3 linked regions of the Homo sapiens genome follow. The protein of the gene in region 1 purifies or fractionates together with the protein of each later gene. This does not show direct contact. Each region holds a gene or a part of one and is shown on either strand. Other genes may lie near its edges. The genes, in order: EML1, PRPS2 and XPOT.

What was found.
Region 2: the proteins of EML1 (region 1) and PRPS2 purify together in Homo sapiens (affinity purification with mass spectrometry; one large-scale study listed by BioGRID and IntAct). This does not show direct contact.
Region 3: the proteins of EML1 (region 1) and XPOT fractionate together in Homo sapiens (co-fractionation; one large-scale study listed by BioGRID). This does not show direct contact.

Annotation. Positions count from the first base shown.
Region 1 is NC_000014.9:99,792,049-99,796,355, reverse strand, and holds the start of EML1 (echinoderm microtubule-associated protein-like 1), read right to left. Parts: upstream 2,944-4,307; 5' UTR 2,880-2,943; coding exon 2,813-2,879; intron 1-2,812. UniProt on the Homo sapiens protein: Modulates the assembly and organization of the microtubule cytoskeleton, and probably plays a role in regulating the orientation of the mitotic spindle and the orientation of the plane of cell division.
Region 2 is NC_000023.11:12,797,828-12,801,478, reverse strand, and holds part of PRPS2 (ribose-phosphate pyrophosphokinase 2), read right to left. Parts: intron 2,273-3,651; coding exon 2,089-2,272; coding exon of another isoform or gene 2,080-2,088; intron 1-2,079. UniProt on the Homo sapiens protein: Catalyzes the synthesis of phosphoribosylpyrophosphate (PRPP) that is essential for nucleotide synthesis.
Region 3 is NC_000012.12:64,431,744-64,435,394, reverse strand, and holds part of XPOT (exportin-T), read right to left. Parts: coding exon 3,572-3,651; intron 1,982-3,571; coding exon 1,792-1,981; intron 889-1,791; coding exon 772-888; intron 602-771; coding exon 486-601; intron 1-485. UniProt on the Homo sapiens protein: Mediates the nuclear export of aminoacylated tRNAs. In the nucleus binds to tRNA and to the GTPase Ran in its active GTP-bound form. Docking of this trimeric complex to the nuclear pore complex (NPC) is mediated through binding to nucleoporins.

The sequences.
Region 1 (4,307 bases):
TTTGCATTTAATGTCCACTACAAATTATGAGGAGAGACACCAAGAAAGAAGTATAAGAGAAGACAGAAATTTCATTCATTAGAACAAACTTTTCTCTTTCTCCCTTCTCATTTACACATTATCTTCTCTCTCTCTCTCTCTCTCTCTCTCTCTCTCTCTCTCTCTCTCTGAGACAGGGTCTCACTTTGTCACCCAGGCTGTAGTACAGTGGCACAGTCATAGCTCACTGCAGCTTCAAACTTCTGGGCTCAATCAATCCTCCCATCTCAGCCTCCTGAGTAGCTAGGATTACAGGTTCAAGCCACCATGCCCAGCCAACTTTTAAAAATTTTTTGTAGAGGGGGGTCTTGCTATGTTGCCCAGGCTGCTCTCAAACTCTTGGCTGCAAGTAATCCTCCCGCCTCAACTTCGCATATCTTGATCTTGTCTTTATTTGACCAGAAGGAAATTAACTATGACAGTCATCCAAATAATATGTGTGAATTATATTTTCTAAAGCTGTAACCATGATTTTTTAGTTTCTGTCACTATTAACAGCATGACGCATACTGAACATATGAAAATGTATGAGTTCATGTATTATGCTGCTGTCTTGCCATTGTAATGTAAGTCTCTCATTTAAAAAGAAAAAATTGTTTGCCAATGTAGCTAATGAAATATCCAAATGTTTAATTTAGTTCCTAGTGAAATGGCATTTCTGTGATCCACTGCTTTAATTGAATCATCATAGTAATTAACTGACTTGTATTCATTTATATCTTCACTTAATGAAAGCCTCTTAAAATGTTTCACATCAAAACATCTGTTGCCTAAGACATCACCAGTTAACATTGACTTCTGCCCCATAGGCCACTCTTGCTTTAAACTTTATTCATTAGACAACCTAAAAAAAAAATAACAAATACAGAGCTGAGAACTTTTTGAGAAAAGTAATTCAATAGTTATAAAGTGATCTTATTGTTTGATTCTAGTTAAGGTGGTTTTTCTTTAAACCAATACTTCTACAAAATATAAGAGTTGGTTTTTACTTTCTTCTGGACATCACCACCAGTAAAATACCATGCCAATATCTCTAGGCTGGCAATTAAAAGGAAAATGCAGAAAACGAAAACATTCATGAACAGACGTGTAGGTCAACTTCATGACTAAACTGCTATTTAGGAACAGTATGACCAGGCCCCAAACAACTGCTCCAATAAAAATATCTAGGCTCATTTTCATATCGCAAATCAAGCTGTCAATAATACGCCCACAGATTAAATTTGTAAGACCTGATGCCTCAAAGTCATTTAATACAAATTTCAGCCACATATCTTTCCAACTAAGCATAGGGAGAATTCTACCATAAGCATATAACTACTTTTTAGATCAAAAACAATAATTCAAATATGATTGATTATAAGTCAATTAAGGAACCTATTCAAAATGTTAATTGAGGAATCTATTTAACCTACTGGAGAGCAAAACCGTTCCCATGACTCTATACTATAAAGTATTCCAGGGACCACCAGCATACCAAATACATTCTACCTGCCCTCAACACCTTCTGAGGCTCAAAAACACAGGTGTTCTGCTCTTGGAAACTGGCGTTAAATTCAGAGAAAAAGCAGAAACTTTCTTTAATTCCACTGAAGAGGGAATTACTAAATTCATGAAGGCCCACAAATGGTTCAGATGTAAAGTATAAGCTGCAAAAGCTATCAGAGTATACATTCTACCATGAACAAGATGATAAATTTCACCAGAGATAAAAAATACCACTACAGAGGATGAATCAACACACTCATTACTCTTTACTGCTACAGTGACAAACAGGTGTCGAATAACAAGAAAACTTTCCCTAAATCACAATACAATAGCAAAATAAATTGCTCCAGTTGTCAAAGGGTCTAGAATTCAAAATTATTCCGACTGCACTTAAGCAAATTCTATCAAATACACATTTTTTTTTCCCATTAACAAACTTTTGGGGCCCTTTGATGGAGCAATAAATCCAACATGTAAAAAAAAAAAAAAGTGTGGTTAACTTTTGTGCGTGAATTATCACACATCATGTTCTGATAAAATATTCAGTGTGCTATGAAAATCTTTTTCAACCCTGCCAATGAGACTGAAATCTTTCAAGCATGTAGGATTTCATATTTTTAAAAAGATGCCATATTGGTGGATATGAATGTTTCCTTCCTGTAAAATTGCAAAAACAAAAAAAGAAAAAAGAATCCATTATCCCATAAACAAAATAAGAAGCAACACTGAGGCCAGGTCCACTTTGGCTTTCCATTTAAAAAGCTCTAGATTGTATTAAATTGTGATGATTTCATTAAAGTAGACCTGAATGGGTTCTGGGGGTCCAAACACTGCGTGCATCCTCGCAGGAGGGTTTTGTTATTAAAGGATTTGTTTCCCGAGTTCTTCATCCAGTCATTTCCAAACAGATGTGGGTCGGGAAGCAAAAAAGCAACACGTTCCCCGGAACGCGGAGGCTGCCCGGGCCTCCCCGCCGCCCTGTGCCCCACGCGCCTCCGCCCGGGCGCGCTCCGCGGGTGCTGGAGCCGGCGGGGTCCGCGCGCCAGTGCCGGGAGCCGGGGTGGCGGCGGGGAGCCCGGGGCGGCCCGGAGCGAGGCGCGGCCCCGCGGCTCCAACACAATGCGCCGGCGGCGGGAACGGGGACCGCGCGCCCCTCCGCAACAACTTTGCGCGGCCTCGCCCGCGGCCGCCGGGCCTCGGCCCCTCGGCTTGGTCCCCGCCGTCGCCGTCGCCGCCGCCCGCCACCAGCCGCTCGCCGCCCCGGCCCCGCGCGGCCGCCCCTCACCGTTGCAGAACTGGAGCAGCGAGGACGTGTCGTACAGGCTGCTGTAGCTGGAGAAGCCGTCCTCCATGCTGAGGCCGCCGGGCCGCGCCCGCTCCCCGGCCCGGCCGCGCCGCCGCCGCTCACCACACACTGAGCTGAGCCCGACCGCGACCGGCGCTGGCGCTGGGGCCGGCCCTGCTGTGGCGGCTGCTGCTGCCGGTTACCATGGCAACCCCGGGCCCGCCGCCGCCGCCGCAGCCGCGCGAGCCCAGCGCCCGCTCCGCCCGCGAGGGGGCGGCCTCGGCGGCCGCGGGGCCCGGGCCGGGAGGGGGACGTGGCGGGGCGGGGCCGAGCCTCCCCGCGCCTGCGGCCTCTTTCCCCGCGGGGAGCGCGGCCCGGGCGGCCTGGGAGCCGCAGGGGCGCGTCTGCCGCCCGCTGTCCCCTTGGCCAGGCCCCGCCTCCGCGCACGGGGGCTCAGGGGCTGCGGGGCGCGGCGGGCGGCCCTTGCGGGGGCGCGGGGACAAAGACCAAGGCCGGGAGAGAGCGGGCGCGTGGGGCCCGGGGTAACCTCCGCCACGGACACCCAAGCCCACCCGCCCCCGACGCGCTGTTCCCGCGCCCGCGGGCAGCTCCACGACCAAACATGGACAACGCGCCCGCACATTTCGGCCGTTTCCACGCCGCGGCTCACTGTGGCCCACATCCGACCGGCGCGTTCCTCTGTCCACACGTTTTTCCGCGGCAGCAAGGCCCTGCCTCAGTGAGACTTAGCACGGGACTGGCAAGTCAGCTCGAACCTTCGCTCACACTGGGCCAGAGAGGCTATCCTGGTACCAGGCTGGAAGTCCCCCGTGTTGAGGACTCGACGCAGCTAAAACATCGCTTTGTGGTTTCTCTATGATCAGCCCCTGGGATACAGATCTGTCACGTTACAGGCTTGTTAACTTGCTACAGGACTAAGGAAATCAGTATTTATTCTACATCAGAAAGACACCAAGAGTTAGGAGAAAATAGCGCAGTCGGAGAAACACATAGATCTATGAGTTTGTAACTTTTCCAGGCCATACACGTATAAATGCTGTTAATGGTTCGCATTTTATACCCATGGAGTAAAGTAAGTAAAGATGCGCCAAATAACGAGTGGGAAGCAATAAATTAGAATATATAAAATGGATCATCTAACCCAAGAATGAGCTTGGTCCCAAAGAGACTGCAGAACGTTTACACTTCCTGTTGCATCAGTCATAATTCAGTTCCATGCCAAAATCTGAAATGGTAGGTACTAACTTGTGCAGGTTGAATAGAGTAGGTGAAATAAGAACTGAGTAAGTTAAAATTAGGAAAACTCGTAGGTCTCGCTTGGGCTCAGAGGCCTGTCCTTCCAGAAGCCCAGCTTGGACATCAGTAGATGGCAGGTGAGGGACAGGGCTCTGTCACTCTGCGTGCGGCACGGTTAGTGCATGGGTTAGTAAGGACTGGTGCTATATGCTGTGGGCAGAGGGAGAAGTTTAAGAGC
Region 2 (3,651 bases), on another chromosome or scaffold:
GGAAACACACAGATGGGAAGAATAGCTAAGACAACAGATTATACCAATGGGACAAAATTAGAAAATTGAAATTTAACAGCTAAAAATACAGTTTAAATCAAGTTTAAAATAAAAGGAGCTGTCTGTATAAATAGCTAGTGGGAGGATACAGCTTCACAGCAGTGTATGTGACCTAAGGTTTTGGCTGCCCAAGGTCAAGTTTAGATCATAAACACACACACACATACACACACACACACACACACACACACACACACGTGCGCACGCAATCTATCAATGGTCTAATACAGGGGTTGGCAAACTGTAGCCTATAGGCCAAATCCAGCTAGCCACCAGCCACCAGCCACTTGTTTTGGTACTGCTTGTGAGCTAATAATGGCTTTCACATGTTTAAATGGTTGAAAAAAATTCAAAATAGTATTTCAAGGCATGTGAAAATAATATGAAATTCACATTTCAGTGTCCATAAATAAAGTTTTATTGGAACACAGCCATACCCATTCATTTACATATTGTCTATTGCTCTTTTTGAAGTACAACCAGAGTTGAATAGTTGCAACACAGACCATATAGCCATTTACAGATAAAGTATGTGGACCCTTCTAATTAGATTTTAGGTGAGAAATTAACTGACTGGCCATCTTCAAGACAGGGAATGGAAACCATGTCTTGAGGAGACTGGGATTAAAATTCAGGGGGACTTTGGTATATGAATTCAAATTTATAAAGGGTTTTTTTCAAATATGAGGGGATCTTGTGTGCTGCTTCAGAAATCTGTGTTGTTTCAGAAATGAATTATGGAGATAAAAAGCAGCATATTGGGGAAAACCTTTCTTGCACTGAGTTACCAAATCACAGAACAGCAGTGTGTCTTGAAAACTGGCAGGATTCTCGCTGAGCCTGGCTGAACATCTATCTATCCATAAGATACGGAACACACAACAGCTGGGAGTTGACCACTGTAGTAGGTCAAACAATATCCCCCCAAAACTCATGTCCACCCACAACTTCAGCATGTGACCTCATTTTGGAAATAGGGTCTTTGCAAATATAACCAAGGTAAAGATTAAGTTGAGTTCATTCTGGATTAGGTTAGGCCTGAAATCCAATGACAGTGTCCTTATAAGAAACAGAGAAGAGACACAGGGAAGAGGCCAGGTGAAGAGAGAGGCAGGGACCAGAGTGATGTAGCCACAGCCAAGGAATGCAAGGAGACACCAGAAGTTGGAAGAAGCGAGGAAGCAGCCTCCCTTACAGCCTTCAGAGGGAGCGTGCCCCTGCCCATTCCTTGATTTCACACTTCTGGGCCTCCGAAACTGTGAGGGAAAAATTTCTGCTCTTTTAAGCCACGCGGTTTATGTAATTTCTTATGACAGCTTAGAAAACTAATACAATCTCCTTCAAAGTTCTTCTCAACCTCCGATTTCTCTGTTGCTCTGAAAGGCAAAGACCAACCACATTTTCTTCAATTTTTTTCTAAAGACTCACAGAGCCTCCTCTGATGCTAATGTTGTGAAAAACATAATTCAATGATACTATTTCTGTTCTTTTTAAAAGGTTAAAAAGAGATCATGGGTTTTTTTTTTAATTAAACTTTTTATTTCGGGGGAATTGTAGATAGACATGCAGTTGTATGAAACAACGCAGAGATCCTGTGAACCTTTTACCTAGTTCCCTGTGGTAACGTCTTGTGAAACTATAACACAGTATCACAGCCAGGACCCTGAAATTGATACAATCCAGTGATCTGATTCAGATGTGCTCTAGTTTGACTTGTACTCTTGTGCATGTATGTGTGTGTATTTAGTTCTATCCACCACCACAAAGACATACAATAATTTCATTATAACAAGGACAATAATGGTATTTTAATACCTGCAAAAATATGCATTACCTGTTTCTTTGAATATTAATGTCAGGGTAGGTTCAAAGCCAAATCTTCAACAAACAAAATAAGAAAGCATATTTACTTGATCATCAAAGGAAAAAGCCAACATTTTCCAGATAATTCTAATCAAGGGGATAAATGAGGAAAAACAACATTGACAGTGGCCCACAGCAGGTTTCTAGGGCACACACCTCTCCTACCTTGTCCTTTTTATCTTGTCGGGCGTATGGGAAACACGGGATCACGGCAGTTACTCTGGATGATGACGCAATCTTGCAGGCATTGATCATGATGAGGAGTTCCATCAGGTTGTCGTTAATTTCCCCGCAGCCGCTCTGGATGATGTAGACATCTTCCCCTCTCACGCTTTCACCAATCTCCACGCTAGGAAAAGAAAACTGCCATCGGTTAATATCGAAGCATATTTGCATCTTGGGCGTCCCTGAGACCACCCCTAGGTTTGATGATCACCAGGATGACTTATAGGACTCAGCCTAATAGTTGCACTCATGGCTGTAATTTATTGCAGAGAAAGGACACAGAGCAAACTCAGCAAAGGGAAAAAGGTGCATGGGGTGAAGTTGGGGGAAACAGGGTGCAAGCTTCCAAGACTCCTCCCTGAGGGGAGTCAGAGGTAGAGCTTAATGCCCCAGTAGTGAGCTGTGACAACACGTGTGAAGGGCTCTCTACCAGGGAAGCTGCTTAGAGACTCAAGTCCCAGGGTTTGTATTGTGGGCTGGTCATATAAGCACCCTCTGCCTAGCACGTACCAAAATGTCAGACTCACAGGCATTCAGCATGAACCACATTGTTTATCAATTGTTTAAGAGTTTATGCAGTGAGCCATCCTTACTGGGAAATGGTGGGTACCCTTGCAAAATGTAAGCTCCCAGAGGCCAGCCAAGGGCCAACCTTGCGAACAGGCCTAAGTCTCAGGCCTGCTAATGTTAACTCTTTTCTGCAAAATACTACATTTAGTTTTAGTTTTTTATTAAAGTTATACAGTCATATTGCTTAAAAAATTCAAACCATTCTGTAAGACGTATAACAGAGAAAGTGCCCAGAGGCCACCAATTTCAACTCTTGATAGGGTTTTTGGATACTTTCCTTCAAGTCTAGCTACTATGTGTGTATTGCTGTGTCTTGATTTTTCATTTTAGGCAAAGTGTATTGACTTCTCACTATGGAAGATGAGGACTGAACTCCATTTCCATTCAGTTCCATCACTTGCAATGTAAACTTCCCATCTCGCCATCATCCCAATATAGATCAATATTCACATTAAAGATTGACTGTACGTTTTTAACTGCGCAAATGCTGCTCAGAGCTCTGCCATGCAATTAACTTAAACGAATGCTTGTATTTTCTTTTTATGCACATCTTTTCTTTTTATTTTCCCTGGAGGTCATTCTCTTACCTTTTTATCTGCTAAGTTTTCTGAATCCTGAATCCAGATTCCACCCTAAACCCTTCACTAACAATCAAAATCTCCCAAGATCAGAGGCCTCAAGTCCCATCTGCATTTCATCGTCTTGCAGGCATCCCTCCCAGGGGTGGCAGGCCTGGGTTATCTCTCTGCCTGTGCACAGCTGCCATCCGGGGATTCCCTGCCCCCTCTCCTGCACTCCATTTGCCATTTTCTGTATCCTCTTTCTTGGTATACTTCCTTGTTTTGCTGGTTGGCATCCTTGCGTAGCTTCTGGAGAAAGAGTAAATAGCAGCTAAGTTTTTGAAAATTGCATGTCTGGAAGTTTCTGTATTTC
Region 3 (3,651 bases), on another chromosome or scaffold:
AATTACAATTATGAAATCTAGCTTTTACCAGGTTGTGGGAAAGTGAGAAAGCGGAAATTGACATTAAGTATTGTGAAAATTAGATTTGGGGAAACTATCATACAAGGAGGATCAAGTTGCCATTTCATGCTCTTAATGATTAGGGAAAACCACTAGGTACAAGTTTTAGAATTAAAGTAGTAGTAGGAAACTAATACTCAAGCTTGAAAGAATGTTTGTGACATATGCCCTTTCATGGTCCTAGAAAAAGTCAGGTGTTAAAGTCGAAGGAGTAGAATTTGTAAAATTCAGCAGTAGCATTGGGATTCAATAAGAATTCATAAAAACTCCAGAAGGTATCATAAATCTTTAAAAAAAGAACCCTGATCTGAAATCACTAAGTTAAAAAAAAAATCAATGAAACATAATATAATCAACCTGGCATTAAAGAAGAAATTGGGAATATATGAGCTACACAAGGTAAACAAAGATTCCTAGGTGCTTACCAATACTGTTTGTGCATCTGCCAGGTCAAAGGTTTGTTTTAAAGGTGCTAGGAAACATGCGGGGACAATGTGCTTATAAACAAAATCAGCAAATCCCACTGGTCCATCTTTACCTCCTGTCAAGAGAATTCAAATTTTCATCTTATATATAAAAGTAAGTCAATTAATTCATCACCAGGGAAAACCAACTCCCAGTTTCTCTCTCTGTTAGGGCTATGTTCCATTATGTCTAAGAGTTTTATGAAAGAGTTTGGGAAATGAAGGTTAAGAAATAAAATTATCTTACCCCAGAGTTCTACCAACTTTGAGAGGATGATAAAACATGTTTTCTGTGCAATTGGATCTGGATATTCAACTGCTCCTTGGATAACAGTAACCAACACTCTTTCTACATTCTCTGCACCTGAGGAGAAAAACCTTTAGTTTAAGCAATTTCCAAAATTAACTAGGAAAGCAACCTGAAGTTCTCTTTTCATATACATTAACAAGTCAAAAATCATTTACAGGTGGAATGGGAAAAATGAAGGGGGAAAAAAGCATTTACAGAATTGCCAAAATCCCTTGATTTTTATTAACTGGGCACCTAAAGTTTAAACATTAAACACTGAAAAATCAGCTGGGCGCGGTGGCTCCTGTCTGTAATTCCAGCCCTTTGTAAGGCCGAGGAAGATTGCTTGAGCCCAGGAGTTTAACCAGCCTGGGCAACGTGGTGAGATCCCATCTCTACAAAAAATAAGCCCAGCATTGTGGCAACTGCCAATGGTCCTGGCTACTCAGGAGGTAGAGATGGGAGGATAGCCCAGGAGGTGGAGGTTGCAATGAGTCGTGATGACACCACTGCACTACAGCCTGGGCAAGAGAGTGAGACCCTATCTCACAAATCAAATCAAATTAAAAAATAAAACAATGAAAAATCAGTTTGCCCCTGGTATCTTGTTCCCTAAATTTCCTATACAGAATTCTCTACACAAATCTGTACAGCTCCATTTATTTTATATTTCAAAATGGCAAATTTGCCATAAAGACTCAATTGTCAGGTCAATTCTGGTAAGTAACCATGTTATTTATATTGCTAAAGAACCAAATTAAAAAAATATTGCAGAAAGAAAAAGGAACAGAATACAAATTAATTTTAGGTGCTTTACATAAAAGTGATCAATTCCCACCCTGAAAACAATAAACTGTCTTCCCATGGGATAGCAAACTTCAAAATTTCTGTATTTACTTCAGTTTGCTCTTGGTCATATAGATGTACAACAGTGACACAGACTTAAGCAGACAAATTAGATATGGCATGTGTTCCCACCTTGATTTGCTATAACTTCGCTCATCCCACTGCCTGTGACTGTTTGCAGGAAAGCAAAGTAACTCCTCCGCAACATCTGCTTCTCTAAAGCAGCAGACTGGTCATTTTCTTCTGCTGGCCGGAGCAGCACTTCAAAAATTGCATGAAGCAGGGGCATGAACATCTGTTGTAAAAACGGGGATACCTGTATCTGAAGATAAACAATCATTACTTCAGAAATTAGTAACAATATTAACATACAACTTAGAAAAAACTATTTTACATAAAGCCTTTCTTTTCTATTTAGGATGCATGCGTACATAATTCAGTTAGCAAATATCAATTTTAAGATAAAATCTATATAACCTAAACATTACTAGGCCAGACGCAGTGGCTCACACCTGTAATCCCAGCACTTTGGGAGGCTAAGGCGGGTGAGTCACCTGAGGTCAGGAGTTCAAGGCCAGTCTGCCCAACATGGTGAAACCCCATCTCTACTAAAAATACAAAAATTAGCTGGGTGTAGTGGCGCACGCCTGTAGTCCCAGTCCAAGCTACTCAGGAGGCTGACGCAGGGGAACTGCTTGAACCTGAGAGGTGGAGGTTGCAGTGAGTCAAGATCATACCACTGCACTCCAGCCTGGGCAACACAGCAAGACTCCATTTCAAGGTGGGGAAAAAACCTTAAAAAATATTACTAAAAGACTCAAGATCATTAAATTTAAACCCTTTCCTACAGCTTAAGATTTAGGTTAAAATAATAGTCAGACATATTTCACAATATTGCCATGGAATATTTTCAAAATTAAATTCTCAAAAAATGAATTATATGATTAAACTCTTAGGGTTTTTCTTGTTTTTGAACAAAGGTAAAAAACATTGTTTAATAGCATGTTCTCAATACTTGCTTACAAATGAACTCCTGAGTTTTATGAACTCTTGGGCAAATCCCTTCACTTCTCCATGCCTCAGTTTCCTCAACTATAACATATAATCCCTGTCTTCTAGGGTAGGTATGAAGATCAAATGAGTAAATGTACAAAAAATGCTTAGAACAGATTTTGAACATAGAAAGTACTATGTAAGTGGCCAGGTTTATGCCTGTAATCCTAGCACTTATGGAGGCCGAGGCAGGAGGATCACTTGAGGTCAGGAGTTCGAGATTAGCCTGGTCAACATGGGGAAACGCTGTCTCTACTAAAAGTACAAAATATTAGCGTGGTGTGGTGCATGCACCTATAGTTCCAGCTACTCAGGAGGCTGAGGCACAAGAATCGCTTGAACCTGGGAGGTGGAGGTTGCAGTGAGTTGTGACCGCGCCACTGCACTCCAGCCTATGTGACAGAGTGAGACTATCTCCATTTAAAAAAAAAAGAAAAAAGGAAAAAAGAGGTACTATGTAAGTATTAACCACTTTTATTAGCCAGCTTAAATGTCCTACAGAAAACTGACTTTAATACATTGAATTACTTTTAACTCTTGCTTGGGTACCTGAATTATGGTGCTTATTTAGTACTCAGTTTACTGGTTTTATATGCTCTTCTAAAACAGCAGACTAGTTTTCTTTTGCTACACAAAGCGGTTAGGGTCTGTTTATATTCAAACATCTATTAAGCATGACCTATGTATCAGGCAGTGTGCCAGACACCACAGATGATAAAAATACATATGATCCATGAGGCTCTTAAGTAATTCATTAAAAGCAAAAAAAAAGAAACCCAAGGGCAAAATCCGAAACATGTCTGAAGATAAATACATCTGATCTTCAAGAGATTTTCAGAGCTCTGAAAGTTTGCGGTACCTTGAATTTGGCCGTAATCTGGTTGATAAGAGGAATGAACTCCTGGAGATCTTTTGCTTCACAATCTTTGAGCATATGTT